Homo sapiens: one gene and its partners. The protein of the gene in region 1 purifies or fractionates together with the protein of each later gene. This does not show direct contact. Each region holds a gene or a part of one and is shown in the gene's direction. Other genes may lie near its edges. The genes, in order: FAM20B, RIC3, C1GALT1, PARP14 and PLEKHG3.

Region 1 (6,222 bases):
CACTTTGCCAGTGAGAAACCTCTGTGGCCGTGGTGCCTTCTGCCTGAGTAGTGCTTGTGCCCACTGGGCTCGTTCTACCCACTCAGCCTTGCAGGCCGTGCTCAGCTCGTACTACTGGCCTGGATCTTATACCTGCCAAGGGCAAGCCAGGTGCAGAGCAGCAAGGGGTGTGTGGACAAGCTAGCATGGGGTCTGGCCACTGTACACAGCCACGCACGCTGGGGCTGCTGTGGTGGGGTAGGCAGCTCCAAGCATAAGCACAGCTGCCGGTTCTGTGTGAGTCTGCAGCTGGACCAGAGTATCACATGCAGCTTCTGCTGCGGGTGCCCATGTCTGGACAAGGGGAACATGGTGGCATCCAGAAACTTGGAGACACCAGGAACCTCAGAACCCCAAAGAGGATGTCACAGCCCTGGCTCGGGGAGACCCTAGGTCTGAGCTCCACAAAGGGCCCCAGCTCTTCTCTCTTTCTGATTGCCTACCACATGGTGAGCAGGGGGTGTGTTTCAGCCCTGTTTGCATTACAGCTCTTTCAGTCCTGCCATTTGGTGGGTTCTGAGTTCTTGTCCCATGCCCCACGCTGACAACTGGGGGTGAGCAAAGTGGAGAGGAGCTTCACTGAGCAATAGAACAGCTCTCTGGAGACCCAAAGTGGATAGCTCTTTCTGCAGCCATGTTGTTCTGATGAGAGTCTAGCTTTCAGTGGAGAGGAGACCCACAGTGGGTAGATCCCTTGTGCACGCAGGTTGTCCGGATATCTGTTTGAGTCTGGCTGAGTGCAGGGTTTTTATGAGCTCAGAAGAGAGGAAGTGTGTGCTGATTGGCCCATGGGTGGCCATGGGTGGGCCCAGAAAAAGCACCATAAGTTCTCACTGTGGTTTGCGGACTCTTAACCAGAACCGACAGCCCAGCCCCCATGCTTCAGGCCATCCCTGGCTTGAAGGTGGGGCTTCACTGGGGACCCATCCCTTTCCGCCCAGGAGCCTGCCTCCTGCCACCATTCATGTCATCCACAGTGCCCAAGCTGTTTGTACCAAGGGATGCCTGCAGGCCTACACTGAGCCATCCTCAGTCCTCCCTTGGCCTCCCTCCCATGCTCATTGGTGCCCAAAGTCCGGAGTGGGCTGAGACAGCAGGGGCCTGGTGTATCAGCACTGCCCCAACCACATATATACAGGTCACGACATCACCTGGGCTTTGCCACAATTTTGCTCCACCCCAGAGTGGGTGCGGGGAGTGGGGAGAGGCCAGGCAGCAGGAGTGGCATTTTGGAGCCTGTGGGTGTAGCTGTGGCTGGGTGGCTGCAGCTGTACCCAGGAACACGGGGCCCCTGCTCCACCATCTTGGAAGAGGGCAGGGCTCCCACCTGTTCCCAGCTCCTTCCAGCTCCGTGGAGTGTGCAGCCCTGGCCATGCCTCTCCCACTGCAGCTGGTGTCTTCGCAGCAGCTGCTCCAGTTGGGCCACTGCTGCCATCATTAGGTCCTTCTCCAGATTAGTTAATTTTAAATTATTGAACCTTCTTGAGCTCAAGAATAGAAAGCCTAAAAGGGTGAGTCATATATTAGAGGCTTACAAAAGATTCAGGGGTGGAAGGACAGAATTTTTGATCAAATTTTGCTTTGTACTTGGGCTTGCAGGAACTGTGGAAGGTGCATCAGTGAAGAAATGGACCAATGTGTATAATCATGGAATCTCCTTGCTAACCATCACCACCAGCTCTCCTTAATACATGAGCAAGAGTGGGTCAGGGGAGAAGGAAAAGAGGTCAACATGAAGCTAAAGCAGCGAGTCGTGCTGTTAGCAATTCTCCTTGTCATTTTTATCTTCACCAAAGTTTTCCTGATTGACAACTTAGATACATCAGCTGCCAACCGGGAGGACCAGAGGGCCTTTCACCGAATGATGACTGGCTTGCGGGTGGAGCTGGCACCCAAGCTGGACCATACCTTGCAGTCTCCCTGGGAGATTGCAGCCCAGTGGGTGGTTCCCCGGGAAGTGTACCCTGAAGAGACACCAGAGCTGGGGGCAGTCATGCATGCCATGGCCACCAAGAAAATCATTAAAGCTGATGTGGGTTATAAAGGGACACAGCTGAAAGCCTTACTGATACTTGAAGGAGGCCAGAAAGTTGTTTTCAAACCTAAGCGGTAAGTTTTGATCTTGGAAGCTGCATGTGCTAGTTGGTTGATTCATTTAACTTGGGATTTATATAAGATTTATTTTGTCATCTTCTCTTGGAAGTCTCTTCAGTAAAATAAGAGGGGTAGACTAGATCTCTAAAGTCTTTTCTAGCACTTAACATGAATCTACCTTTATAGTATCATATAGAATAGTCTTCCTGCCCTAAAAATCCTCTGTGTTCTACCTACTCATTTTTCCCTCTCTGCCCCAGAACACCTGGTAACCCACTGGTCTTTTTACTATCTCCGTAGTTTTGCCTTTTCCTGAATGTAATATAGTTGCAATCACAGAATGTAAGCCCTTTCAGATTGGCTTCTTTCACTTAGTAAAGTGCATTTAAGGTTTATACATATCTTTTTGTGGCATGATAGTTCATTTGTTTTTATCACTGAATAATATTCCATTGTCTAGATGTACCACAGCTTAATTATCCATTCACTTACTGAAGGACATCTTGGTTGCTTCCAAGTTTGGGGCAATTGTGAATAAAGCTGCTATAAACATCCATGTGCAGGTTTTTGTGTGGACATAAATTTTCAACTCATTTGGATAGATACCAGAAGCATAATTGCTGGACCACATGGTAAGAGTACGTTTCATTTTGTAAAAAACTGCTAAACTATCTTCCAAAGTAGCTGTACCATTTTGTGTTTCTACCAGCAATGCATGAGAATTCCTGTTGCTCCACATCCTCACCAGGGTTTGGCATCAGTGTTTCAGATCATAGCTGTTCTAATAGATCTCTTATTTCTTTCACCTGTTTTAAGTAAAGAATTGGGCCATTTTAGTTACCTTAGTTAACTAAATATGTATGTTGTTCATGATCCCTTTGGACTTCCTAGGGATCTACAGAGATAATTTGTGTGACAATTCTGTGATACAGTTAATTATTTTTATTTATTTATTTATTTCTCTACACAAGACAGCTTGGAGGGTATAGTTAATTTTCTAAAAATGTTTTCTGAGTGTATGAATCTGAATTAGGTTAACATCATGATGGTGATTTGTATTCTTTTGCCGGGAGTTAGTTACCAATGAATATTCTCAAAGTTTGTAATGTCTGAAATCTTTTGGGTACTAAACATTTTTTTCATTCCTCAGTAGAGCTTTTGAAAAAATTATAACATGACTTTAGATTTCTTTCTGGAGTGGGAGAAGAAATGTAGGGAAAAGATGGACAAAATTCAACTCCCTTTCTTACCCAACTATTAGTAAATGAAAGGCAGTCAGAGCATGAATGTATAGGGAGCCCAGAAATGGAAGGGATCACTGTTGGTCTGGAACTGGGAAATATATGTCAGTGATGTGGAAATTAGGAAAGTTAAAACATTTGGTAGACTTTCAGAGAATAAAAATTTGACTGGGGCTGGGCGTGATGGCTCATGCCTGTAATCCCAGCACTTGGGGAGGCCGAGGTGGGTGGATCACTTGAGCCTGGGTGATGTAGTGAGACTCTGTCTCTATAAAAAAATAAAAAATTAGCTGGGCGTGGTGGTGTGCACCTATAGTCTCAGCTACTTGGAAGGCTGAGGTGGGAGGATGGGAAGATTGCTTGAGTGCGAGAGTTTGAGGCCGCAGCAAGCCATGCTCGTGCCACTGCCCTCCAGCCTGGGTGACAGAGTGAGACCTGTCTCAAAAAAAAAAACCAAAAAACAAAAAAAAACCGTGGTTATGTGGGCCTGGGATCTAATTTCTGTAATGCACACTATTTGCCAGGGATTACACTAAGTACTTTTGTATCTCTTAATCCTTTAAACCCTTATACGAAGGTTTAACCTTTTTGGACAATTTCAGTTCTTATTTCCTGAATAAGAAACTGAGGTTCAGAGAGTGTAACTAACTTGACAAGGTCACCTCACATCAATCAGTGGTACAGAAGTTTGAACCCATATTTGTTAGAGTTGTAAACAGCTTGTATTCTGCCACACACATGGAATTCTCTAAGTTTGTTTGCTTCCCATAAGTGATGACGTGGAGCACTCATCATCAAAAATCGCATTTAGCTTTGAAGTTTGGTCTTTGACTTCTTGGCCTGAGAGATAAGCAGCATAAACAGAGTAATGGAAAAAGGCAAACTAAAGACAAAAATAAAATTTGTATATAAAGAGATGGCCGGGCACGGTGGCTCACGCCTGTAATCCCAGCACTTTGGGAGGCCAAGGTGGGCGGATCACTTGACGTCAGGAGTTTGAGACCAGCCTGGCCAACATGGCGAAACCCCATCTCTACTAAAAATACAAAAAATTAGCCGGGCGTTTTGGTATGTGCCTGTAATCCTAGCTACTCAGGAGTCTGAGGCAGGAGAATCACTTGAACCTGGGAGGCGAAGGTTGCGGTGAGCTGAGATTGCACCATTGCACTGCAGCCTGGGCAACAAGAGCAAAACTCCATCTCAAAAACGTAAAATAAAATAAATAAAGAGATGAGTTGTGAGCATTTTGTGTTTAAATAAGAGGAGATCTGGCTGGGTGCGGTGGCTCATGCCTGTAATCCTAGCACTTTGGGAGGCCGAGGCGGGCGGATCACCTGAGGTCAGGAGTTCGAGACCAGCCTGGCTAACATGCTGAAACCCCGTTTCTACTAAAAATACAAAAAATTAGCTAGGCACGTGCCTGTAATCCCAGCTACTCGGAAGGCTGAGGCAGGAGAATCGCTTGAACCCGGAGGCGGAGGTTGTAGTGAGCCGAGATCACGCCATTGCACTCCAGCCTGGGCAACAGGAGCGAAACTCCGTCTCAAAAAAAAAGAGATCCTCATCACACCTACCACTTGTACACTGGAGAATTGAAGGGGAGTTGGGACAGCAGGAAGTGTGTTAGAAGACAGATATTCCCAAGAGCGTGCAGTGTTAGACCAGGTGCTTTGCAGGATAGGCCTGAAATGTTCAGACAAGATATAAGTGGTGGGAGGAGAGGCCAGACTGATGAGTAGGGGAGGTAGTAACAGATAATGCATAACCTTAGTCACTTCTTGCTTCATCTTATATCTCTTACTACCACTGCAGCCTTCTCATTACCTCCCTCCTCCAGACCATCCTGGAAACCACTTCCGTTCTTCCCCGTTCTTCCCCAGAAGACTTATTATCACTATGTTCCCCAGCTTTAAAACATCCAGGGACTTCCCATTGCCCACCAGACAAAACCCAGCCTCCACAGCCTAAGGTCAAGCCCCTGACTGTCTGGTCCTCCTCTCTATACTCAGCCTTATCTTCCTTTTGCTCTTTGTTTCTGTCAAACTCTGGCCCCCTGCTCCCGCATCATCTCCTAAACAGCCTGTGTCCACTCCCAGCAACAGGGCACTCTCTTCTCCAACTCAGCAAGGTTTTTTTTGGCCCCTGCCATAGGTGCTAACTCTCTTAGTCACTGCACATACTGACCTGTGCTGCTTTATATCAGGAAATATCACAGGCTGGGGAAAGTGGTTGTAAGTTTAAGTGCTTGCAGAAATTGACTCCAGTCCCTAAACACCCAGCAAAATGCTGTTCTGACCCCCAGGGCTTCAGAGGCTATTTATTTAGTCCTGGTGTAAGTGCAAATTAATGTCCTTGGTCATACTCTGATGTCCTTCAGCAGAAGGATAGGAATGATTTATTGGCAGTTACTGTATGAATTTTGCTGCTCTGTCAGTGACTTAAGATGGATCACTCTCTGGTAAGAGAAGAATCTAAGTCCTTTCTCTGAAAGCCACTTGTGGTTTTAACATTTCTGGAGCCTGATTATCCATGTCCTGCTCTCAGAGATACAAGGTGTGTGCAGTATAGGTAGATGATATATATGGGAATAGAGTGACACTTTTATTTACACATTTTGCCTTACATTATAAGTAAAGGTGATTTTTTTTTTAATGTAGCTATTTCCATTCTAGAAGTAATTGATTTTCACAGGCAAAAACAGCAGTTATGTTGGAAAAAGAACAAGAAGGCAGGGGCCTAGAAGCGCGTAGAAGTGAATGAGTAATCTCAGGAAGTACTAAAAGGGACCTTGGAGATCAGCTAGTCCAACTGTCCATTTTACAGGTGAGAAAAATGAGATCCAGAATTC
Region 2 (6,222 bases), on another chromosome or scaffold:
TGTGAATCCATCTGGTCCTGGACTCTTTTTGGTTGGTAAACTATTGATTATTGCCACAATTTCAGCTCCTGTTACTGGTCTATTCAGAGATTCAACTTCTTCCTGGTTTAGTCTTGGGAGAGTGTATGTGTTGAGGAATTTATCCATTTCTTCTAGATTTTCTAGTTTTTTTGCGTAGAGGTGTTTGTAGTATTCTCTGATGGTAGTTTGTATTTCTGTGGGATAGGTGGTGATATCCCCTTTATCATTTTTTATTGTGTCTATTTGATTCTTCTCTCTTTTTTTCTTTATTAGTGTTGCTAGCGGTCTATCAATTTTGTTGATCCTTTCAAAAAACCAGCTCCTGGATTCATTAATTTTTTGAAGGGTTTTTTGTGTCTCTATTTCCTTCAGTTCTGCTCTGATTTTAGTTATTTCTTGCCTTCTGCTAGCTTTTGAATGTGTTTGCTCTTGCTTTTCTAGTTCTTTTAATTGTGATGTTAGGGTGTCAATTTTGGATCTTTCCTGCTTTCTCCTGTGGGCATTTAGTGCTATAAATTTCCCTCTACACACTGCTTTGAATGCGTCCCAGAGATTCTGGTATGTTGTGTCTTTGTTCTCGTTGGTTTCAAAGAACATCTTTATTTCTGCCTTCGTTTCGTTATGTATCCAGTAGTCATTCAGGAGCAGGTTGTTCAGTTTCCATGTAGTTGAGCGGTTTTGAGTGAGATTCTTAATCCTGAGTTCTAGTTTGATTGCACTGTGGTCTGAGAGAGTTTGTTATAATCTCTGTTCTTTTACATTTGCTGAGGAGAGCTTTACTTCCAAGTATGTGGTCAATTTTGGAATAGTTGTGGTGTGGTGCTGAAAAAAATGTATATTCTGTTGATTTGGGGTGGAGAGTTCTGTAGGTGTCTATTAGGTCCACTTGGTGCAGAGCTGAGTTCAATTCCTGGGTATCCTTGTTGACTTTCTGTCTCGTTGATCTGTCTAATGTTGACAGTGGGGTGTTAAAGTCTCCCATTATTAATGTGTGGGAGTCTAAGTCTCTTTGTAGGTCACTCAGGACTTGCTTTATGAATCTGGGTGCTCCTGTATTGGGTGCATATATATTTAGGATAGTTAGCTCCTCTTGTTGAATTGATCCTTTACCATTATGTAATGGCCTTCTTTGTCTCTTTTGATCTTGTTGGTTTAAAGTCTGTTTTATCAGAAACTAGGACTGCAACCCCTGCCTTTTTTTATTTTCCATTTGCTTGGTAGATCTTCCTCCATCCTTTTATTTTGAGCCTATGTGTGTCTCTGCACGTGAGATGGGTTTCCTGAATACAGCACACTGTTGGGTCTTGACTTTATCCAATTTGCCAGTCTGTGTATTTTAATTGGAGCATTTAGTCCATTTACATTTAAAGTTAGTATTGTTATGTGTGAATTTGATCCTGTCATTATGATGTTAGCTGGTGATTTTGCTCGTTAGTTGATGCAGTTTCTTCCTAGTCTCGATGGTCTTTACATTTTGGCATGATTTTGCAGCGGCTGGTACCGGTTGTTCCTTTCCATGTTTAGCGCTTCCTTCAGGAGCTCTTTTAGGGCAGGCCTGGTGGTGACAAAATCTCTCAGCATTTGCTTGTCTGTAAAGTATTTTATTTCTCCTTCACTTATGAAGCTTAGTTTGGCTGGATATGAAATTCTGGGTTGAAAATTCTTTTCTTTAAGAATGTTGAATATTGGCCCCCACTCTCTTCTGGCTTGTAGGGTTTCTGCCGAGAGATCCGCTGTTAGTCTGTATTTTCTTATCTGTATTAGTTAGGGGTGGCTAACTGCTGTAACAAATAGATTCCACAGTGTATAATGACCCTAACACAATAGAAGTTGATTTCTCACTCTTACAGACAGGTCCAGATGACTCTAAGTTAGTGAGGTGGCAGCAGTGGAGGGCTCTGCACTACATAATTATTTAGGAATCAGGTTGATGGAGGCTTTGCTGTTTCTACCCGTGGCTTCCAAGGTCCCCGTGGGTGTTAGCATCCATGCTGCAGAAAAGAAATGATCACGGAGTTGAATAACAAGGGAGATTTTATAGACCAGGCCTTGAGCTAGCACAGTCCTAGTCACATTCCTTGGTTGGAACTCAGTTTATATGGCCACATTTAACTGTATGGGAGTCTGAAAAATGTGGTCCAGCTAAGGACCCAGAGGGAAGAGAAAATGGGTTTGGTGAACAGCTAGAGATGATCACATCATATTTAGGATATGTGTGATACCTCTGTATCCTTTTAATTAAGTTGCCATTTTTTTCTTCTACTTGTTTGTGTTGGCCTCTTTTATACCTTAATGATTTGGTGTTTTCATGATAGCCATCTTTAAAATAGTAGAAGAGATAAAAAGTGATTATTATTTTCTCAGGAAAATTGGGCCGATTTCCACCTATGATGCATCATCACCAGGCACCCTCAGATGGCCAGACTCCTGGGGCTCGTTTCCAGAGGTCTCACCTTGCCGAGGCATTTGCAAAGGCCAAAGGATCAGGTGGAGGTGCTGGAGGAGGAGGTAGTGGAAGAGGTCTGATGGGGCAGATTATTCCAATCTACGGTTTTGGGATTTTTTTATATATACTGTACATTCTATTTAAGGTAAGTAGAATCATCCTAATCATATTACATCAATGAAAATCTAATATGGCAATAAAAATCATTGTCTACATTAAAACTTCTTATAGTTCATAAAATTATTTCAAATCCATCATCTCTTTAAATCCTGCCTCCTCTTCATGAGGTACTTAGGATAGCCATTATTTCAGTTTCACATAAGAAATGTTTACTCAATGTTTAAGTGTTTTGCCCCAAAATTCACAACTAACAAGGCAGAACTAGGACTTGAACATGGATCTTTTGGTTCTTAATCCAGTGAGTGATACAATTCAATGCACTCCCCTGCCAAAAAAAAAAAAAAAAAAAAAAAAATTAACATCTTTACAGGCCGAAAAGGAATAAAGATTTTCTAAGAAGAGCTTTTATTATTGGGATTGGCACAGTGATTTCCAAATAGCCATTGTAAGGCCAAATAATGACACCACTTTATCCTGCTTGTTTCTCCACAGGAATTTGAGATGCTGTTTTTAATATTATCTCCAATAATTCTCCTGAGACAGAACTGTCCCTCCTGAAATTAAGCCTGATATTTCCTAGCTCTGGGGAGACATGGGTGTAGGTTCTTTAAAGCAGACCCCCAGTTGAGTTCCACCTCCAGGCAGGCCTTTGCAGGCCCCTGGCCCCTGTACTGTGAATTAGAGGCAGAAGACTCACTTTGCCCTCCTGTCTAGAGTAAGCTTAAATAAGATGAGTTCTTTCTCGCCCAGGAATTCTGCAGGCAGTCTGAGTTGAGTCTGTAAGAATGCCCATAGGGTGCCACACATCCCTTTTAGATGAGCATGAGCAAGGAAGATGACCTGTAGGGAGATTTTTTTTCCCTTGTGTTAGAAATGCTTGTTCTCTGGTGCCATAAAGAAGCAGCACTTGGACGTACATTTAATTTCCTCAGCAAGGCCATTTTTACTTTCTGCAGAAAGGGTACACTCACCAGCGGTTTTGCCGTGAGAGTACACCGAACAAAGGAGACAGGGTCATTTATAACCTGACGCATCCACCTTACTGCTGTGTCCGGTTTCCATTGGCTGGAACGGGACCTCACATTCTGTATTTGTGCTGATTGGCTAGCGACTTAGAACTTTTTAAAAGAGGCAAAGGCAGAGGAGAACAAAGGAAGGAGGAACTAACTTGTGGAATGCTGAGAAAGGTAAAAACACCTTCATATAAGGAAGAGGAACAGGCTATGACCTCATGCTTGCTTTGACAAGTATAAGCATGCCAGGGCAAATATTTAGGCTAAACTGTGGGAGCTAAGAACAGTTGATTTCTTTATTATGGCTAGCAGATATCTAAGCATGTTAGCACAGGTTCTTGAATAAATTTTGCTTCTAAGAGAAGTTACTATTCCTAATTATATGGGGAGTAAAGTCTCTTTGAAGAGGAATCTCTACTTTACTTTTTACACTTGTGCTTTGATAATTTTTTACTTGGAAACCTCATCTTTTGGCGTTTTTTTTTTTGAGCTATTTCTCTAGTGTTGCTATTTGATTTAATTTCTGACCTTCATTTTTGTTTCCCAACCTTTTTTTTTTGTTTGATATGAGGGGTTCCGTGACTGAGGTTCTGAGCTGCTGTTGATGTGCTATACCTCCTTCAATTCTCAGCTCTCAAAGGGGAAAACAACTGCAGAGGATGGGAAATGCTATACTGCCATGCCTGGAAACACCCACAGGAAAATTAGTAAGTGCCCCTTCTCAGTATATTCACAGGTATTATTGAGTCAAACAGTTTTATAGCCACAGGGACAGTCTGTGGGTATGTCTTAAAAGCATTTCTCAAAAGTTGCTCCAAATTAATCTGATGCCATTTTTGCCTTAGTTCTGGGAATTCTCAAAAGTTTTTATATTGATGTACTACAAAAAGTACAAAACCACCAGTTCACTTTTTAATATATTAGCAAATTAATATTTCACGTTTGGAATGACTTCTCATTTTCAGACTTCAAAATATTGGTAGCAGAGAGCAAAATGGAGGCAGAGAAATCATATCATTGCCAAAATCAGTTTTTAGATCTAGGGAAAGAGTTTAACACTTCTGACTGTTGAAACATGGCCATCAGATACTTATTATACAACTAGAATATTCTGTGTTCTCTAGGGAAATTAAATTTATACAACATGGCTCTTTCCTCAAGAATTTATAGACTAGAATGTATGTCAGGAAAAATAACCTATGAAAAATTTACCACCCGCAAGTAAGAGACTTGGCAAAAGCATTGCAGGAAATCATGTTTATCTGGGCTGTAACTGCTTTTTGGATTTACTTCTGGATTTTCTATGGAACTAAATATCCCAGTCACACTTTGCATCCTTTTTGGAAATCTTAAATATTCACAGAATCCTTTAATAAAACTGCGGTGTTCTTCAATGAGATAGTAATGGGAAGTTAGACAGTACAATAGCTTTTTAAAAATTTGTGGTCTCTTTAACAGGTTTAGGGAGTTGTCTCTGATGGTTCTTAGATTGTTGCTTATTTTTTAGCCAGTTTTGAGCTTGCTCAACTGCAAGAAAAACTGAAGGAGACAGAAGCAGCCATGGAAAAATTAATCAACAGAGTGGGACCTAATGGTGAGAGGTAGGTTTTCATGTAACGGGACTCAGACTATTTCTCATTTAGAAAATAAATTCAGGCTGGGTGCAGTGGCCGAGGCCTCTAATCCCAGCACTTTGGGAGGCCGAGGTGGGTGGATCATCTGAGGTCAGGAGTTTGAGACCATCCTGACCAACATGATGAAACCCTGTCTCTACTAAAAATACAAAATTAGCCAGGTGTGGTGGTGCACACCTGCAATCCCAGCTACTCGGGAGGCTGAGGCAGGAGAATCGCTTGAACCTGGGAGGCGGAGGTTGCAGTGAGCCAAGATTGTGCCCTTGCACTCCAGCCTGGGCAATGAGAGCGAAATTCTATCTCAAAAAAAGAAAAGGAAAGAAAATTCAAAATTATGCTTTTTTTTTGATAAATAGACCACTTATTTTCATTTTATGTACTGTCAGTTTTTAAATTGTAAATATGTCATTTACGTATTCTTTATCATTTAACATTTTTCATTCACATACTGTCAAGCAACCTCAGTTTTCAAAAGTTTAATGTGCAAATTATTGTGAAAGTGAATAAATTTGTGAGTAATTCCTACAGGGTGAAATAACTATGATTTAAGAAAGAAAATTTCCTAGCTGTCTAAAATAGGTATAATTTTAAGTAAAACCAGGTTATTGAACATGATGCTTTCTACTTGAGACAAAATGAGAGAAGAGAGCAAGTGTGATCAGATTAGGCATTCATGTTTGTGTCGACTGTGCCAGCACAGAATTACATGTAAATTAGATGTTAAGAGCCAAACTGGCCGTTTAGAATGTCCCAAAGGGAAGACACTCCTCTTGCTACCAGGCTGGCTGAGGATCTGAAAGGGTGGCTTCAGGAGGTTGATAGAAGTGGACAACAACCAAGAAAACGTGGATATAGAAAGGCCAAGAAGGAAAAACCAGAATGTAAGATGGAGGACAAAGAAGGGTTCAGTTTCAGCTAGGTCTTCTGGCAAGGATGGAGGAAGAATATTAGGGGGAGTGGCAGAATCCCATGCAGAAGGAAGTGTTGA
Region 3 (6,982 bases), on another chromosome or scaffold:
TAACTCATTAATTTTTAAAAAATTAAAAAAAATTGATTGAGGAAAAACAACTGGGGGCAGAATTCAAGTTTCAAGGATTCCGTTGTTCTATTCACCATGTTACTTCCACAACTGGCAAAGTTTAGCTCTCAGTAAGATTCACACTACATCTCTCTATAAGAGATCAAAAAACCCTTAGATAATACAGGTGTCAGGGAGCAAAGATAATCCTAACATTGTATGCTACCTACTAAAGTGAAAAAGATATACTTCATTCAATTATTTATTCATTCAAACAACAAATAATTGAACACCTGCATGTGTGCCAGGCATTGTGCTAGGCTCTATTATATCCAGCTGTATGAGTTACCTATTGTTGTATAACAAACTATCCCAAAACTTAGTGGCTTAAAACAACAATCATTTAAACATTTAGTATCTCACTGTTTCTGTGGCCTAGGAATTCAGGAGCACCTTAGCTGAATGGTTCTGTCTCAGGGTCTCTTTCTAGGTTACAGTCAAGATGTTGACCATGATGCATGCAATCATTTGAAGGCCTGAAGGGTTGGAGGATCTGCTTCCAAGCTCACTCACATGGCTCTTGTCAGAAGGCCTCAATACCTCACCGGTTGTTGGCTAGAAGCCTTAATTACTCACCATGTGAGCCTCCTTATAAGTTGCCTGAGTGACCTTATGACTCTGACATAACAGCTACCTGGCCCCAACAAGTAATCCTAGAGAAAGAATAAAAAGTCTGGCATGTTTTATAGTCTCCCCTCAGAAGTCACATTACATCATTTCCACTACATTCTATTCATGAGAACAAGTCATTTAATACAGTCCAAACTCAAGGTGAGGGGAATGAAGTTTGACCCTTTGAAGGAAGAAGTATCAAATAATTTGTGAACATATTTTAATACTACCATATGAGTTAATAAAATTTAATACACGAAATTTAACTTAATTATTATAAACTGGTGTTAATATATTTGTAAAATGTAGGTATTTAAAGGGAAACTAAGTCTATTAAAGAAGACAATGTTTTAATGTTGTTGCTAGCTTGTTTGCATTTTCTGTCACCATTTTCACCTCATTCTGTCTATTAAAAAATTCTATATATAGTGCTAAATAAATGATGACTTGGCCTATCTTATTATGTCAACTAAGAATTGCATTTGATACTTACAACAGACAATAACAAAATCTTATATAGAAGGGATATAATCTTCCTCACCTAACAACAAATCCAGAAGTGGATAGTCCAGACCTGGTAAGTTGGCCCTCCAAAGCAACCATGGACCTAGGCACCTCTGGTGTCCTACACTATTAATAGTGTCTGTGTGGCTTTTGTTATTATGGGTGAAATATGGCTGTTCTACCTCCAGTATCATGTCCCTGTTTCAGGTTCAAAAAAAAAAAAAAAAAAGGGATGGGTGCATATCAAATGGCTAAAGCGATATTTCTTCCATAAAGCTTTCCTTGAGTCTCCTCTACAGAAATTCACTTTTATTTAATTGATGGTCACATGGCCAGCCATGACTTATGAAAGTCTAGGGGCATGAATATTTTTAACTGGCCACATTGTCACCCTGAAGAAATCAGAGTTCTACTAGTAAAGAAGAAAGGATTTTGGTTTAGACAACTAGTAATGTCTACCGACCTACTCCAACGAGTTTTGACATGCATTATTAAACACTAGACACAAGAGAAACAACAATACTGAGGTTTATGTGTGTTTCAAGTATGTTTCAAATGGGAGAATCTGGTCAGTTTTGAGTCCCACATATAAAGTATATTTTTCAAAGTAACCACAATTTTTATTCTCTAATTGAAAATGTCGAAGAATTGGCTGACATTAATGTCACTTCTAGGAATGTGTTCAAGGAGATAATTGCACAATTGTGCAAAAGCCTATGGATAAGAATGTTCATCAGAGACTTTTTTTATGGTAGTAAAAACTTGGAAACATAAATGTCAATCAATAGAATACTGGTTGGATAAATGATGGTATATCCATTTAACAGACAGTATGCAACTTTTAAAAATGATGTTATTCATGACTGTTGTTCACTGTGCAGATAATACGATCCAATTTATGAAATATTGTATTTATATGTCTATATGTGCTTTTATTCTTAGAGAGATGCCTAGAAGAATGTAACACAAAATTTAAGAAATGGTTATCTCTATATTATGGTATTTGGACAGATTTTAACTTCTTTGCATTTTTGTTTAAATTTTTTAAATTTGTTTGCATAAGCATGTATTGTTTTTATAAAACAATAGTTATTAGCTGGGTGCCACAGCCTGTGCCTGTAATCCCAACTACTGGGGAGGCTAAGGCGGGAAGATTGCTTCAGCCTTCAGCCCAGTTATTCGAGGCTGTTGTGTGCCAAGATCACACCTGTGAATAGCCACTGCATTCCAGCCTGGGCAACATAGAAAGACCATATCTCTTCAAAAAAAAAAAAAAGCTATTTTCAAAGAAAGGCAGGGTGGGGGCAGGGCTGATTTGGTCCAGTATTGTTTCTAGCAAGTAATTTTCCAGGATAAGGCTGTGGCTGACCTTATTTTAGGAAAGGGTTCTAATCTTTGCTCAATGGAAAAAAGTGTTATTCTTTATTAATTATAACTTTTAATAAAATTAAAACGAGATAAGGAGTTGTGAGTTTTGGTTTCTATTTGGAACACTGACCCCTGAAAGAGTTCTCCTTCCATGTTTCACAATGGATGGCAAGACATTGCGGAAAGGTGGAAGGATGTTGCGGAAAGGTGGAAGGATATTGCGGAAAGGTGGAAGGATATTGCGGAAAGGTGGAGGGGGAGGAGGCTGAGCAACAACTGTATACAAGTTGGGGAGGAGTAGAGAATGGACGTAATCATGTAAGGCAGAGAAGTCTGGACCCATGAGCCAAGGAAAGAGCAATAACCTGGACATCAGGATAGCTGCACTTCTCTTCTAACATGGACCTATCAGTTTATCTTTCTGGCCTTAGTTTTGTCATCTGAAAAATGAGACATCTGTATTAGAATCACTACATGTGCTTTATGTTTCACAATTCTTTTGGATATATTGATGCAATGTCCTGAGAAACTACACTACAGCTGAACCTAAGCAAATTAAAGGAAAAATAACAATAACTAATGTATATTATTATTTGTCTCAGGCATTCTAAGTAACTTGCCAATAGGTGGAGGGACCAAGATGCCAGCCCGGGCAGTCTGATTTCAGAGCCCATACTCTTTAACAACCATGCTGTAGAGTACTAAAGAACCGCTTGGATAGGGCATTTAAAGGAAGCAGGGTAGCTTTCCTATTCTGGAACGTGGTCTTGTAGATAATGGTTAACGCCAGTAAAGACTAAACCTTACCCTCACCTCATGACTATTGTGGGGTTGCCTCAACAGGTGGCAGCCTCCTCCCCCTATTCCAAAGACAACTTCCTTATTCAGAGCCCAGCGAAAGGGGAGATAGGTTTTGTTACGCCCCTAAGAAGCTCTTCCGGCCATTGCCCCACAGAACCGAAGTGCTGACAGAACCAAAGACGAAATGTGCCTATAGAAAGCTTTCTGGTATCATTATCTCGGTTCTCAGCTCTTCCTGGTTCTCACATGATGACCCAGCACCCGTATGCATACTTCATCTTATTACTTCCTTTTATTAAGCCCAGAGAGATACTGAGTAAAGAGAGCACGGGGAGAGAACAGAAAAACAAATGAACGGGTTAAGAGCAGGCTACAGGCCACAAGAGTCCTGCAGGGTTAGAGCCTGTACCTCAGACAAAGGTCCTTCAAGCATCCCCTTTCTCGCTCCCTATTGTTACCCTGCTTTCGTCCCGCTCAAGGTCTTGAAGCTAGTGCATAACCTTACAGCAGGATCAGAAATGCGGAGAGTAGCAGACACAAGCCGCAAGGGGGATACAACAAAATCTACTGCTCGTGCAAGATCCGACTTCCCAGACCCCTTCGCATTAGGGCGGAGCGTGCACCCGGCAGCCAATCCCCGCTTCCTCACGTCGCCGTATCCCCGCCCACCGCCCCTCCCGCTCCGCCCTTCCCTGGGGCTGGTGCGGCGGCGGAGACGTCAGCGCCAGGAGACTTCGGGTGGCGGCTGCGCCATAGGCGGGCCACGGCCTGGACGCGCTGCGGGGAGGGGCGGAGCGAGCGGGCGGGAGCGCGCGCTGGGCCCGCCTTGGCCGCCGCCGCTGTGCTGCCGCTGCCGGGGAATAATCTGGGCGGCAGCGGGCGGCCTCGGCTAGCGGCCACGAGCCACTTCTGCGGCTGCCCAGAGAAGCAAAGGTCACCAGTCCCAAGTCGTCCCCCTCTCCGCCCCCCAGGAGGGGCGAGAGGGAGCCGCAGCTGATGTCAGGTATGGCCGGCGGAGGCGCCCTCAGGCTACGGGTCCAAGGTCTCGTCTCCCCTCGCCCTCCCCCCTCTCCGGGTTGGTGGGGAAGCGTGGAGGATGGAACCAAACCCCGGGCGCGGCGGAACAGGTGTCTCGGGGTCAAAGCCGGGCTGGGGTCGTCCGGGCTCCTGAGGAAGGCGCGAGGACTTCCCGCTCCCGGAGCCTTAGCGATCTGCCACAGCGTTCGGCTGCGTACCCGGCCTCAATTTTGTGGACATGTACCCTCCTCTTCGTCGTGGGTCCTTCCCTTGTGCCCGCTCGCGCCCCTCTTCTGCTCGCGCGCTGCCTGGCGGCGCGGCGGGGCGCGCAGTGCGCCCGGACCGGACCACTTAGCGGTCCTGCCCCGCCGGGCCCTCCCAGTCCCTCCTCCCGGGCCCTCCCCGCCCCGCCGCAGACCTGTGGGTCCCGCCGGACTGGGCGCCCAGGTGTTGGGCACCTTCGCCGGGGAGCCACTCGGCTGCCGCGCCGCCTGAGCGCCCAGCGAGCGGGCTCCTTCCAGAGGTGCCTGGAGCTTGCTTGGGTCTAGCTTGGATCATCAGGTTTGTCTGTAGCTGATTTATTTCTTTAAGTTTCCCTGCCGCAGAGTGAAGCAGATACGTGTGTGTTGGGGCATTCGGGGCATGGAGGAGGAAGAAAGGCATTAAATTTTTTTTTTTTGCTTCTGCACCCCATTTTTCCCCAACAAATTGTGATGGAATTAGTAGGTGTTGACAAGTTGTCCATTTGCTTTGAATTTGGGTAAGTCGTACACTCTTAAAAGATGACCATAATTTAGCGCTGTGGATTTATTCTTTCCTGGTCCTTACCGTCTCCCCACCCCCCACCACCCCGCATTTAAAGCAAACAACAGTATCAGCAACAAAAAACCCACACATCCTGGAAAAATTCTCAAGATTTCTAACCTAGTTCTCTATATCCATTGTACATACTACTGTATTTCCTTTTAACGCTTTTTTAAGATAGAAAACTATTGTGCTAACCATGGATTGATTTCATTATGAATTTAAAAGTTATAAATTTAGAACCATAATGAATCAATGAATAATTGGCCGATGTGTAAGGGAGAGAAATATGTTAACTTACTAAAAGTTGGGCATAGAACATAGCTCTGCCAGGAAAAAGTGCGCATAATTTCAAGTTGCTTCATTCTGGTGTGAGTTTGGGAAGTTGGAATCCGAGTTTTTAGAAGGTATTTAGATGACAGCTTTTCACCCTCTTAGGTAAATGGCAGTTGAGCTTAATGCCCATGATGCTGTATGTTCTAAATATTGTATATAGTACACTATACTTTCTACCAGTCTTTATATATAGATGTACAGTTTAAGTGAATATAAAGTTTCAAGTTAGCAAACAGTTAACTCTTCACCTTATGGTAAGTGAAACAATGACTTAGTAAGGAAAGTATGACTCATTTAAAATTCTTCATAAAGAGAATAATTTTTCAGTATTAGTGGAGAGCTACTAAATGCCTCTCAAATTTGCCTGGAATGTGTATTTTTTTGTATCTTCCTACTTAGGATTAAGCATTTTAGAAATATTTTGTGTTTCCTATTTAAAGTTTTTCATAATTATGCTTTTTAAGACTAGACTACGTTGAGTAAATTCAATATCCAGTTATTCTTAAAATTGTATCACAAATTTATTTCAGGGTACACATAATGAGTTCTTGTTTACCTAATAGAAATATGAAAAAGTATGTCACTAGGCACATGCTACTATTTGTGTATTGATTTGTGCTAAAATTAAAATTGCATTATGCAGTTTAACATTATAAGCCATGGTAATTTAGAGTCTTTGTGTGGTAAAATCATTGATTGGAATTTTTGTGACAGTGCAGCTATAAATAAACCTTAAGTAGAAAATGGAAAGCTTGATGCTGAAATTAAATTCAGATAGGCTTAAAAGTTTAAGCTTCCCAATACAACCATCTTTTCTTTTAGAAGATTTCTTAAGATTTGATTAAAGACGCTGATGTACAAACTATAGCAAGGCTGAAAGAAAGGTATGACAAAAATCTTTTTACTTCAAATTCAGTGGGATTAAGTCATTCTTTTAAAAGAAGAAAGGTGGGGAGCGGGAAGGAGACTTGTTCCATAAAATGAGAAGTTAGCCTTTTATCTTAAAATCTGGTTAGAGAGGAACTCCAATGTGTACTTAAATTATTTTGCAGCTAATTCAAATGTCCAAGGGGAATATATATGCCAAAATCTGTAATATGTGAGAATAGGAAGAGGGAGAAAAAAAATATATAAAGAAACTGGTGTTTGTGATTTAGGGAAGCACATAAGAAGGTGGGGGAAACTGAAAGGAAAGTCTAAATAAATTATCTAGCACCTGTAGTATGTGCTGCCTTGCACATTGAAGGGGCGTGTTGGGGGCAACGAGAGGCAATATTAGGGAGATTCTGGAATGGGAAACCTGTATATTAAAGCACATTTAAACGGCTAGATGTTGGATAATAGGCAGAATTTGAAATTAAATACAGCTTGGCATAGTTATTTGCATTCTTGGTCATTGTATTTTCTAGGGCTGCGGTAACAAAATACGACAAACTGGGTGATTTAAAACAACAGATTTATTGTCTCAGTTCTGGAGGCA
Region 4 (6,222 bases), on another chromosome or scaffold:
ATCTCAACTCACTGCAGCCTCAACCTCTGGGGGCTCAGGTGATCCTCCTACCTCAGCCTCCCAAGTAGCTGGGACTACAGTTGTGCACCACCATCCCAGCTAATATTTGTATTATTTGTAGAGATGGGGTTTCACCATGTTGTTCAGGCTGATCTCGAACTCCTGGACTCAAGTGATCCACCCACCTCGGCCTCCCAAAGTGCTGGGATTGCAGACATGAGCCATTGTGTCTGGCTGGATTGACAGCTTTTGATTTTCTTTATCCTTAAGGGTTGATCAAATTTTCCTGGTTCTTTATATAACAAGCAATTTTGGAATACAGACTTGACATTTTAAATATTATGTTGTGAGACTAGGGCCACCCTTGGGTCAAAGCTGGGAGAGAAAAGAGGAAAAATTTTAAAACAGAACAAAATGGAAAACTGCCCCACTTAGCAGATTGCTTCTGCAAGTTTTGGCACCTTTCTTCAATCTGTCTGCTGTTATTGTAACTTTTCAGAGCTCTTGGGTGGTGGCTTTTTGTATTTGTCCTGTTTTTAGTTGTAATCAACGGGAGAGATAGGCTATAGTACGCTAACTTCACCTTGGTCAGCACCAGAGTTCATGTTTGATATGGATTCTATGTTCTAATTCTTTTTTCTTAAACAGATCATCACTGAGGCTGAGGAGCAGGGCCAGGTTAAAGACCAGAGGTCACAGAAAGAGAGGGAGAGGGAAGACATCCAAGAGGGTCCCATGTGAGCAGGATACCCAAGTCATTCTTGCTGTGGCTGACTCGGTTATTGACTTTACTTCTTTTCTTTTCAGGTTTTTATGGGACTGTTTCTAGCCCTGATTCAGGTGTGTATGAAATGAAGATTGGCTCCATCATCTTCCAGGTGGCTTCTGGAGATATCACGAAAGAAGAGGCAGATGTGATTGTAAATTCAACATCAAACTCATTCAATCTCAAAGCAGGTACTTGTACAATTTTGATGAGTGCAATAGTTAATGGTAGATGCTATGAAGGAGGGTTTCTATAGCCAAACTGGTTTTTAGAACTTTGGCTTGTTAATTAATAACTTTTAAATTATGCTGACAGGGTTTTCCATAATTAATAATGTTTATTTTATGAAGTTTTCTTCTTTGTCATCAGCAATACCCAATTAGAGGATTCCTCAGATGATGGAGAATGCATTCAGATAATCCTTCTGATCCAAATATACCATAGTGGTTTTTTACTCATGTTTGTTATCATCTTGATTTTCTCATGTAGGGGTCTCCAAAGCAATTTTAGAATGTGCTGGACAAAATGTAGAAAGGGAATGTTCTCAGCAAGGTAAGGCATATTCTATTTTTTGGTCCTAAGTTGTAATTGTATGGGAGGCTGTGGAGAGGCTGAGAAAAGTCTTAGGGTTGGGGAGACAACACTCTAATTTTAAAATGATACATTTTACTAAAGAATTCCAATCACAGACACTTAGAAGTGAAAAGTAATCTCACAGTTAAAAGTAAAGTTAAGTCATAGCATTCCATCAAAGATAGTATTTCAGGAGTTTTTTTTTTTTCACAAAATGCTTACTTGCCAAGTTATACATTTTGCTTTCTAAACAAATGACGGGTTCAACTTCTACTAATTTTGCATCTTTTTGTCTGTGTTTCCCAGCTCAGCAGCGCAAAAATGATTATATAATCACCGGAGGTGGATTTTTGAGGTGCAAGAATATCATTCATGTAATTGGTGGAAATGATGTCAAGAGTTCAGTTTCCTCTGTTTTGCAGGAGTGTGAAAAAAAAAATTACTCATCCATTTGCCTCCCAGCCATTGGGACAGGTTCGTAGCCTCTGGCTGTCAAGGCTAAATCCCAAGCCATCTACTTTCCCTTTCATTTGGAGCTGAGTGTGAATGCGGTCAGTGCTGAGTCTGACCCAGGGCAGCAACCATTAAGCTAGGAGTGGACAGCTTCCTCCCCATAAGACAACTCCCAAGGGAATGACAAAGCCTGTGGATTGTTTGAGTAAAAGAGGGACAAAATGCAGGAGACTGAAGAGAGTGTTAGAATGTTAGAGAGGCAGAAAGAAGGGAAGGGAAAATAAGGAGGAGAAGAGAAGGGAGAGAGTGGAAAGGCCATCCCTCATTCTCTTTCCTCAGTTACTTTCCCTTTTTCCATTCCCTACATATTCTCCATTATGCAGTCCTTAGCTTCCTCCTCTTTCCCCTCTCCATGGAGAATATTAGTACAACAACTTCCACCTCACTCTAGCTGATTCCCAGAGGAATATTACCAGGCTTCAGCTCAACAGTCAGCTGTGTCACTTGGCCTCAGGGCATTTCTGTGTAGAAGCTTCTCAGTCACCAGAACCTAGTGGGTCAGAAACTCAACTCTCCACTTTCCTCTTTTCAGCCTACTTGCTTCTTTGATTTTCTTCTTTTCCTAAAACTAGGTAATGATAGCGTGATTTTTCATATATAAGGATGGCGCTCTGGATTTATCATTAATTAGGTGGTTTTTTTTTTTTAATTATACTGGGGTACATGGGCAGAATGTGCAGTTTTGTTGCACAGGTGTTCTTTGAGCTCTTTAGGAATCCCTGCTTGGTCTCCTTCAGAGAGCTGGTCAGGGGAGGCATGCATTCTTAGGCTTGAAGTCAACGGAGCTGCCTTGTTCCAGTGCGAGAATAGTCAGCATCGGATCTGTCATTCTGTTGCTCGGGAATCTAAGTTTGAATCTCTTATGCTGGCATTCTAGGCTTTCCAAAAGGTTATCCTCAATAAACTTAACCATCCTTGTCAATTTCTGGGCCTTCTTCTAACCCTCTGACCCATATCTGTAATTCTGTACCATTTCTTATAATGTTCCGAGATGGAATTCTATGTCTATTTTACAACTTTTCTATTTCTAAAAGTATAATTTTTGATCCCTTTGTTTTCATTCCCCTTAGAGTATCATCTATTCCTAGCAGATTAGCCAACATTTCTCCTATCTCTCTCTACCAGTCATCTATCTATCTATCTATCTATCTATCTATCTATCTATCTATCTATCTATCTATCTATCGATCTGTCTATCTATCTCTATCATCTCTCTACTGACTTATCTTTTATGGACACCCACCAATGACTCCTCAGTCTCTGTCTCCATCTGTTTTTTTCTCTGAGCTCTAGTCTTGGGTTTCCACCTTCAGTTGATTTGGGCCAAGAAAGCAAGCAGCTTAGGGGTGCCACAGACCTTCCCAAAGGAGTCCCTGGTAGAGTCAAAAGAAGAAACAAAGAAAGAAGGTAGGTTTCGTTTTGTATAAATATGTACACATTTGAGCATTTCTGGACTCAATTCTGGACTCAACAACAAATCCTGTTGTTTCTTCCACTGACCTGGTTGCATTGCTGGTCAGCACAAATAAATCAGGGTTAGTGGGTTATCCTTGCATGTCCTCTTTACCTATCTTTATCACCACCTGAGCTGGTTCTGAGACTGATAGATGTAGAAGCTTTCTCTTTTAGTGGTGTATATGAGTTGAATTAAGACTGTGATCAAGACAGCCTCTGGCAGTTAAAGGAGCCTCCTCTCTGTTCCTTAAAGACACCTGCATAAGAGGAGAGATTAGGTGGTTAGCAATACCTGTGATCACCTCAAGCTCAACGCAGACTCCAAACTCTCATTCCTTGTCATCTCCCCAAACCTGCCCTTCCTCTTATATCCCCAATCACGTGAAAAACATCACTTTCCATCTAGAGTCCTTGACTCTACCCTCTTCGTCACTCCGATCTTCATTAGCTTAGGAATTATTTGATTGAATATTTACTGAGTGCCTGCATCTGCAAGGCACCATGTTTAGGCTCTGGAGATAGAAAGATAACTAAGAAAAGGATCCAGTTCACAAGGAGCACTGAGCCCAGTGTGAGAGACAGGCATGCAAACAAACAACTGCAATGCAACGTGAACCATGATATAGTGAAGGTATGTGTATGGCAAAAGACAGAGAGGGAAAGGTGAAGGACAAACCCAGCTGGTCCCTAGGTACTCCTGACTTTACTTCCAAAATAGCTCCTCAATCCCTATTCTTCATTCTGGCCTCCTCTTTTTGTTCAGCTCTTGTCTTTTGACTAAGCTTTTATTACAGCGTCCTAACTAGACCTGGGCTCCCCGCTCCATGCTTCCTCCATACCCCTCCAGACTTAACTTCCTCAAAACTAGGTCTGTTCTGCATACGTGCCAGGCTGAACATATACCCATTACATAGTTCCATCTGGCATAGCCTTTCCCTCAATTTTCCATATTTCACCTGTTGATCACCTGTTCATCCCCGCATATCACATCATCTGTGTTCTAGCAAGTGCCTAGTGAGTACCTAGCCAGTGATAGGACATAGCAGATGTTTCTTGAAAGTGAATGAATGTAACTGAATGTGTCCATATAAACTCTTCAAAATACCATGGGAAAATTACAGCTTTGCAAAAGAGAATTTCCCTCGTTCTCTGATCATCTGATTTAAAAAGATTTGAACAACCCCCCTTGGTTAATTTTATGTGGGGTTGTCTACATTCCCACAATTGTCAGCATAGCCAAGTCAAAGAAGCCTACTCTTCTTCTGCAATAGTGGTGGGTACCATCAACAACAATTAGCCAGGTGGGCTCTTAGTCTGTCACATCAGCTTGGCCAAGGAACTTTTACATTGCCCATCATGTGACTTTGCCAGCTGTTATTCACATGGGACTGTTCCCCCAGCTGGAAAGGGACTTTTCATGATCTTACCTAGGCTGTTGCTTTCATGGCTTGAGAAGGAGGATATGGAGTATGCTGAAAACAGGAAACGCTCTGCTTCAGGTGGCTACCTTGAATCCTGCTGGTCAGCTAAAATCTCACTGAGTGTGGAGGGAAAGGCTTCTTGGAGGCTTATAGATAACTTGTGTCTGAAAAATTATAGATTATAACAAATAGCCTGTAGCACTGGGTGTCTTACTAAATTTTGCTTAGTTCAAATTAGGTTCCCAGAGATATCTGGGAGAATAAGGATACATACATAAAATCAAGTGATGACTGATCCTAAAAAAGATTTTCATCTTTAAAAAGTATTTTATGTCAACATATATTAGCATCTGCTTTTTATGAAATTTCAAGGACACTAGCGAGCTAAGTAGAAAAGCTACTTGTGCTCTGTAATAGGAGAGGAGGAACACAATGAGCTGGGATCAGTTGAATAGAGTAGATATGATTGTCAGACACCAAAAGTCAGATTTCTGGGTCCTTTGTTCACTGCTAGGCTGTGGGCTTCCTGACATCCTGGAACAAAAACACTTCATTGCATCTAGGACTTCAAAAGTGTTTGCTGATGCTTTGTTAGAAAATTCCACAATGATGAAAGAATTGAGGAGTGGGCATTTATTCTCTGAGCATTGGAAACCCTAATTTATTCCTCAGCCTTCCACTTGGGGCTTTTTTGTCCTTCAGCAATTTTATTATTTGCTTTTCCAGGAAATGCCAAACAACACCCAGATAAGGTTGCTGAAGCCATAATTGATGCCATTGAAGACTTTGTCCAGAAAGGATCAGCCCAGTCTGTGAAAAAAGTTAAAGTTGTTATCTTTCTGCCTCAAGTACTGGATGTGTTTTATGCCAACATGAAGAAAAGAGAAGGGACTCAGCTTTCTTCCCAACAGTCTGTGATGTCTAAACTTGCATGTGAGTTCTTTGTTTTTATGAAATGCATGTTCATAACGTTGATGTCACATGTGAAATACCTAATCTTCCTTTTCTTTTTAGCATTTTTGGGCTTTTCAAAGCAATCTCCCCAAAAAAAGAATCATTTGGTTTTGGAAAAGAAAACAGAATCAGCAACTTTTCGGGTGTGTGGTGAAAATGTCACGTGTGTGGAATATGCTATCTCCTGGCTACAAGACCTGATTGAAAAAGAACAGTGTCCTTACACCAGTGAAGATGAGTGCATCAAAGACTTTGATGAAAAGGAGTATCAGGAGTTGAATGAGCTGCAGAAGAAGTTAAATATTAACATTTCCCTGGACCATAAGAGACCTTTGATTAAGGTTTTGGGAATTAGCAGAGATGTGATGCAGGCTAGAGATGAAATTGAGGCGATGATCAAGAGAGTTCGATTGGCCAAAGAACAGGAATCCCGGGCAGATTGTATCAGTGAGTTTATAGAATGGCAGTATAATGACAATAACACTTCTCATTGTTTTAACAAAATGACCAATCTGAAATTAGAGGATGCAAGGAGAGAAA
Region 5 (6,222 bases), on another chromosome or scaffold:
CCCTGGGGGCCCTTCTGCACCCTCTGCCTAGAACAGCACCCTGCTGGGGGCCTGCCCAGTGTGGACCTACTCAGATTTCCCTCTCCCTAGGGTAGACAAGTAGGCAGGCCTGTTTGGGTTCTGAAGTTTTGACCAGGTCCCAGCCTTTCCACCATGAGAATGCCCACCCCTCCCTGGACCCCAGTGGCAACCTGAGTTGGGCATCTAGGTGTGGCTTTCTGTGTGAAGGCTCCCCCCCCGCAGCTGCCTGCAGGAGGACGGGAGGTTGCCCAAGAGGCTGGTCACGAGGGGGTCTTGTGCTCTGAACAGCATGCAGGCAGTGCTGGAACCCTCCTGGACTTTGGGCAGCCCTCCCGTACTCGGGGCCTGCAGCCAGAGGCTGAAGGGGCTACCCAGGAGGAGGAAGAGGAAGAGGAGGAGGTGGTGGAGGAGGAGGAGGAGGAGGAGGAGGAAGAGCAGGCCTTTCAGGTCTCTCTGGAGGACCTGACAGGGCATGAAGGCAACGAGAAGGGGGCTGGGCCGGAGCCCCCAGGCTCAGAGGAGGAGGAGGAGGAGCAGGAGGAGAGCCTGGCGGTGGCGGAGCAGGTAGCCGACTTTGCCAGCTCCCTGCTGGCCGCCCTCCACTGCTGGCACTATCGGGCCAACGCTTTACTTTTCTCCCGGGGCGCTATGGTGAGGTGTCTCTTCGATCTCCCCTCCTCCTTGCATGCTCCCTGGGATGTGCATGCCCACCCGAGGGCCCCCTCTGCTGCCCTCCTCACCCCACCCTGCCCTGGTTTTACTCCTCCCCTCAGCACTTAACACCATCGCTCGCTGTCACACCCTGGTGAGCCCCTGGCATGCTCTGTTCCAGTACTGGGCACTAATCAATATAACGCCCAACAAGCATGACAAGTGGGGTGGGGTGGTGGGGGCAGGGAGAAGCTAGCACACAGTGGGGCTGGAAAGGTCAAGTCCACTTTGGAGGGACAGAAAGGTGGGCTGAGGTTTTTTGAAGCTGCATGCCTGACAAGGCTTTCCGCAGCCCCAGGCCTGGCAGTTCAGGTTGGCTCTGGAATGGCTCAGGTCCAAGACTGGCTCTCAGCTCAGCCCAGCCCCTTGGGGCGTGGGAGGCACTGCCCGTGTTGGGATGCAGAAGGGATCAGCTTCCAGTTGTCTTGGAGTTGATGACTGACCTCTACCTCTGCAGGGAAAGGGGCGCAGGGAGTCTGAAAGCTCCAGGAGCAGCAGAAGGCCCAGTGGCCGGTCTCCAACCAGTACTGAGAAGCGCATGAGCTTCGAGTCCATTTCTTCCCTGCCAGAGGTGAGCGACCAGCAGGTGGGATGGGGATAGTAGGAAGAACTTGGAGTCCAGATTTTCAAGTCTGCAAATAGGGCTTTCAGGCACAGGCTCTCCCACTGGGCCCATGGGAACAGAGATTCCCCACCTCCCAGGACTCTCAGCCCTGCATGAAGCCTGTTTGGCCTAGAGTATATGGTTTGGTGAGCAGACCACCCCTTTCTATGAAGTAGAGAAAGGCTCCCCTTTGGGCAGATGCAGTCCCATGTCAAGGGCACGCAGCTAGTGGAAATGAACCAGGTATTAGGCTCCTTTCGTTAGGCCACCTTGTATGGGTTATAAGGCCCTGTCCCTGCCAGCATGCCAGACATTGAAATCACACCTGTGGTCACCTGGGCAAAGGGTAGAGAACTGATATCTGTTGGACACCTCCTCTGTAACTGATGTGTTATTTCTTCCTACTCTTCCCCACAATGGCTCTAGAAGGAAAAGGGCACTGAGTGGTTGATGGCGTGCCTAACACTGAGCAGCTTCTGAGGCGCGGGGCTGAGATCAGACCTGGGGCTGGGACTCAGAGGCCCACTCTCCTCCTCCTGCTGCCCTATGCTGTCTGTGGGTTGTAGGAAGCAGCATCCTTTACTTTCCCAAAGTTATAAGGGAAAGATCGTGAGCTACAGCCTGGACCCCATGTTGGACCCCACAGCCAGGACTGAGAAGCCTGGATGATACTGGACAGGAATGTAGCATGATGTCTTAGCTTGAGCTGCTGTAACAAAATCCCTTACTGCTACGTGGGTAGCTTAGTTATTGCTCACAGTTTTGGAGGCTGGAAATTCTAAGGTCAAGATGCCAGCAGACCCTGGGGAGGGCTTGCCCTCTGCTTCGTAGATGGTGGCTTCTTGCTGTGTCCTCACATGGCAAAGGGGCAAGGAAGCTCCCTTGATCCTCATTTGTAAGGGATCTGACCCCACTCATGAGGATGGAGCCCTTGTGACCTAATTTCCCAAAGGCCCCCCCTCTCATTCCCATCACACTGGGTGTTAGCCTCCACATGGCAATTTTAGAGATACACAGACATTCAGAGCAGAGCAAATTGGGGTGTCAAATAATAATACAATGAGAACCACCCATTACAAAGTTTAAAAGAAGCAGATGAAATTAATTTTAGTAGTATATTTTATTTAACCCAATGTATACAGAGTATTATTCTAACATGTAATCAACATAAAAAGTTACTGATATGTTTTATCCCTTTTTTTATACAGAGTCTTTGCAATCTGGTGTGTATTTTATCCCAAGAGCAGGTTTCCATCTGGCCTAACCCCATTTCGGGTGCTCAGAAAGCCACAGTGGCTGGTGGCTCCCATGTTGAACAGTGCAAGTCTAGATCATGGGTCTTGCTCTGCAGATTCTGAACTAGAACAGAAGGAATTATGTCCGATCTTATAATTAGTGTTTGCTCTTATCTCCTTAAAGACTGCTCTGGAAAGCCGCGTATGTCATCAGTTCTGTGGTTCAAATTACTTTCAAGGTGGTCAAGAGGGAATTCTCAAGTTTGCTTTCTTCCTTGCCCATTTCCTGGGCATATGCAGTTGTGCTGGGCCCACAGGTACTGGGAGGAGCCACATTCCTGGTCCTCATCCTCTGACGAGATTCCAGCATGTGGCTGTGTTGCTCTCTAGACCCTAATCCACATGGGAGGCCCTGTCCCCTGAGGAAAATGAAATGGCCTCTCATGTTGTGCAGGTCTGGGTTTGAACCCTAGAACCTCCAAGTGAGGAGCCTCTAGGGCTTTGGGGAGCTGCCTCACCATCAGCCATGCTGGTTCCATGACACTGTGAGAACCAGCCCCTGGGAACCTGGGGCCATGCCCAACCCACTGTTGTGTGTTCCCACCTTGTCCCTGTAGCTCCTAGGCTGGCTGCCATCAAGGTGTTGCCATCCTGACCCATCTGCATTCTTACTGTTTTCCTTGGTTTTGAGGACATGGGCCCAGCACCCCCACTGTACGGTGACTAAAGGACACAGTCATGTTCCTCTAAGGACCCATCACCTACTCCTAAGTCGTGCTCATTCTGATTGCCTTGAGTCCTAAACTACAGGTCCCTGTCATTGGGCCTTGAGCAGGCCATGCTGTCCCCTTGTTCCCCGGATCCCATGAAGGAGGCTTTTTACTCATGTGAGCCTTTTCTGCTATGTTTCAGGTTGAGCCGGACCCTGAGGCTGGGAGTGAGCAAGAGGTATTTTCTGCTGTGGAAGGGCCCAGTGCCGAGGAGACGCCTTCAGACACAGAATCTCCAGAAGTCCTGGAGACACAGCTTGATGCCCACCAGGGCCTTCTGGGGATGGACCCCCCAGGTGACATGGTGGACTTCGTGGCAGCTGAGAGCACTGAGGACCTTAAGGCCCTGAGCAGCGAGGAGGAAGAAGAAATGGGAGGTGCCGCCCAGGAGCCTGAGAGCCTTCTGCCACCCTCTGTGCTGGACCAGGCCAGCGTCATTGCGGAGCGATTTGTCAGCAGCTTCTCTCGGCGGAGCAGCGTGGCACAGGAGGACAGCAAGTCCAGTGGCTTTGGGAGCCCGCGGCTGGTCAGCCGGAGCAGCAGCGTGCTCAGCCTGGAGGGCAGCGAGAAGGGCCTGGCCCGGCATGGCAGTGCCACAGACTCCCTCAGCTGTCAGCTCTCCCCAGAAGTGGACATCAGTGTGGGGGTGGCCACAGAGGACAGCCCTTCTGTCAATGGGATGGAGCCCCCAAGCCCAGGCTGCCCAGTGGAGCCTGACCGGTCTTCCTGCAAGAAGAAGGAATCAGCACTCTCCACCCGAGACCGGCTGTTGCTAGACAAGATTAAGAGCTATTATGAAAATGCAGAACACCATGATGCAGGCTTCAGCGTCCGTCGCCGGGAGAGCCTCTCCTACATCCCCAAAGGACTGGTAAGAAACTCCATCTCCAGGTTCAACAGCCTTCCCCGGCCAGACCCAGAGCCAGTACCTCCAGTGGGGAGCAAGAGACAGGTGGGCTCCCGGCCGACTTCGTGGGCCCTGTTTGAGCTCCCAGGACCAAGCCAGGCAGTCAAAGGGGACCCACCTCCCATCTCAGATGCTGAGTTCCGCCCATCTTCAGAAATTGTGAAGATCTGGGAGGGAATGGAGTCTTCCGGAGGGAGCCCTGGGAAGGGGCCAGGCCAGGGCCAGGCCAATGGCTTTGACCTGCATGAGCCACTCTTCATCCTGGAGGAGCATGAGCTGGGAGCCATCACAGAGGAGTCGGCCACTGCCTCCCCGGAAAGCTCCTCTCCCACTGAGGGGCGCAGCCCGGCCCACCTGGCCCGGGAGCTGAAAGAGCTGGTGAAGGAGCTGAGCAGCAGTACCCAGGGGGAGCTGGTGGCCCCACTGCACCCCCGCATCGTGCAGCTCTCCCACGTAATGGACAGCCACGTGAGCGAGCGCGTCAAGAACAAGGTCTACCAGCTGGCCCGCCAGTACAGCCTCCGGATCAAGAGCAACAAGCCAGTGATGGCCAGGCCACCACTGCAGTGGGAAAAGGTGGCCCCTGAGAGGGATGGGAAGAGCCCCACTGTGCCCTGTCTACAGGAAGAGGCTGGAGAGCCATTAGGTGGCAAAGGTATGACAGAAGCGGCAAGTGGGCCCTTCCCCAAGTCTAGGGACTGAAGAGTCAATAAGGAGCCACTTGGCTCCTCGGGGAAAGTGACCTCTAAGGAGGCTCTACCAAAGGGAGAAGCTGGACCCTGGGCACTAAGGGCACAGGGTGAGCCCTGGCAGCCAGTCCAGTGCTCTGAGGCCAAGCTTGCTCTCTTGGTTAAGCCCTTTTGATGCCCTCTGCTCTGGCCCTTCCCATCCAGCAGAGGCTTCTGGAGGAAGCATGGCCCCAGGCCCCTCCTTTAGCAGGATGGGAGCAGAAGCTCTCCCCCTCTGCCTTTGACTCCTGACCCCTTTCCACTGCCTTTTCTTCATTCTTCCTATGGCCCTTCATGAAAGAGGCTGTGGATGGTAAGTGAGATTTCTCCCATCACACCCAAAACCCCAACAACCAGCCTTGCCTGGAAAGTGAGTTGGGGCCTGCTCAGAGCACCCCCTTGCAGCTCTGCCCTCCCGCCCCATGCTTCAGGCAGCTTGCTCTCTCCTCATAGGTAAGAGGAAGCCGGTGCTGTCTCTATTTGACTATGAGCAGCTGATGGCCCAGGAGCACAGCCCTCCCAAGCCCTCCTCGGCTGGGGAGATGTCACCACAGCGTTTCTTCTTCAACCCGTCTGCTGTCAGCCAGAGGACCACCTCGCCTGGGGGCCGGCCCTCCGCCCGGAGCCCCCTCAGCCCCACAGAGACCTTCAGCTGGCCCGACGTCCGTGAGCTCTGCTCCAAGTATGCCTCCCGCGATGAGGCACGCCGAGCAGGGGGCGGCCGGCCCCGCGGCCCACCCGTCAACAGGAGCCACTCGGTGCCGGAGAACATGGTAGAGCCACCTCTGTCGGGCAGGGTGGGCCGCTGCCGCAGCCTGAGCACCAAGAGGGGCCGGGGAGGCGGAGAGGCTGCCCAATCCCCTGGGCCTCTGCCCCAGAGCAAGCCGGATGGAGGCGAGACCCTGTATGTCACTGCAGACCTCACCCTGGAGGACAACCGGCGGGTGATTGTCATGGAGAAGGGACCCCTTCCCAGCCCCACTGCAGGGCTGGAGGAGAGCAGTGGCCAGGGACCAAGCTCACCGGTGGCCCTGCTGGGGCAGGTTCAGGACTTCCAGCAGTCTGCAGAGTGCCAGCCGAAGGAAGAGGGTTCCAGGGACCCGGCAGACCCGAGCCAGCAGGGCAGAGTGAGAAACCTTAGAGAGAAGTTCCAGGCCTTGAACTCTGTCGGTTGATGCTGACTCCTGGGGGAGGGAGGAGTCATGTTGGAGGTTGGGGAAGAACCTGGGCATCCTTCCCCTCAAGC

What was found.
Region 2: the proteins of FAM20B (region 1) and RIC3 purify together in Homo sapiens (co-immunoprecipitation; one large-scale study listed by IntAct). This does not show direct contact.
Region 3: the proteins of FAM20B (region 1) and C1GALT1 purify together in Homo sapiens (co-immunoprecipitation; one large-scale study listed by IntAct). This does not show direct contact.
Region 4: the proteins of FAM20B (region 1) and PARP14 purify together in Homo sapiens (co-immunoprecipitation; one large-scale study listed by IntAct). This does not show direct contact.
Region 5: the proteins of FAM20B (region 1) and PLEKHG3 purify together in Homo sapiens (co-immunoprecipitation; one large-scale study listed by IntAct). This does not show direct contact.

What each region holds. Positions count from the first base shown.
Region 1 is NC_000001.11:179,042,077-179,048,298, forward strand, and holds part of FAM20B (glycosaminoglycan xylosylkinase), read left to right. Parts: intron 1-1,638; 5' UTR 1,639-1,771; coding exon 1,772-2,148; intron 2,149-2,696; coding exon of another isoform or gene 2,697-2,765; intron 2,766-6,222. UniProt on the Homo sapiens protein: Responsible for the 2-O-phosphorylation of xylose in the glycosaminoglycan-protein linkage region of proteoglycans thereby regulating the amount of mature GAG chains.
Region 2 is NC_000011.10:8,136,357-8,142,578, reverse strand, and holds part of RIC3 (protein RIC-3 isoform a precursor), read left to right. Parts: intron 1-2,385; coding exon 2,386-2,612; intron 2,613-4,231; coding exon 4,232-4,307; intron 4,308-5,107; coding exon 5,108-5,201; intron 5,202-6,222. UniProt on the Homo sapiens protein: Molecular chaperone which facilitates proper subunit assembly and surface trafficking of alpha-7 (CHRNA7) and alpha-8 (CHRNA8) nicotinic acetylcholine receptors.
Region 3 is NC_000007.14:7,178,473-7,185,454, forward strand, and holds the start of C1GALT1 (glycoprotein-N-acetylgalactosamine 3-beta-galactosyltransferase 1), read left to right. Parts: upstream 1-4,071; 5' UTR 4,072-4,348; exon of another isoform or gene 4,349-4,923; intron 4,924-4,953; exon of another isoform or gene 4,954-5,122; intron 5,123-6,324; exon of another isoform or gene 6,325-6,386; intron 6,387-6,911; exon of another isoform or gene 6,912-6,982. UniProt on the Homo sapiens protein: Glycosyltransferase that generates the core 1 O-glycan Gal-beta1-3GalNAc-alpha1-Ser/Thr (T antigen), which is a precursor for many extended O-glycans in glycoproteins.
Region 4 is NC_000003.12:122,712,617-122,718,838, forward strand, and holds part of PARP14 (protein mono-ADP-ribosyltransferase PARP14), read left to right. Parts: intron 1-648; coding exon of another isoform or gene 649-659; exon of another isoform or gene 660-807; coding exon 808-957; intron 958-1,255; coding exon 1,256-1,318; intron 1,319-1,645; coding exon 1,646-1,813; intron 1,814-5,454; coding exon 5,455-5,661; intron 5,662-5,742; coding exon 5,743-6,222. UniProt on the Homo sapiens protein: ADP-ribosyltransferase that mediates mono-ADP-ribosylation of glutamate residues on target proteins. In contrast to PARP1 and PARP2, it is not able to mediate poly-ADP-ribosylation.
Region 5 is NC_000014.9:64,737,553-64,743,774, forward strand, and holds part of PLEKHG3 (pleckstrin homology domain-containing family G member 3), read left to right. Parts: intron 1-1,189; coding exon 1,190-1,303; intron 1,304-3,483; coding exon 3,484-4,903; intron 4,904-5,429; coding exon 5,430-6,151; 3' UTR 6,152-6,222. UniProt on the Homo sapiens protein: Plays a role in controlling cell polarity and cell motility by selectively binding newly polymerized actin and activating RAC1 and CDC42 to enhance local actin polymerization.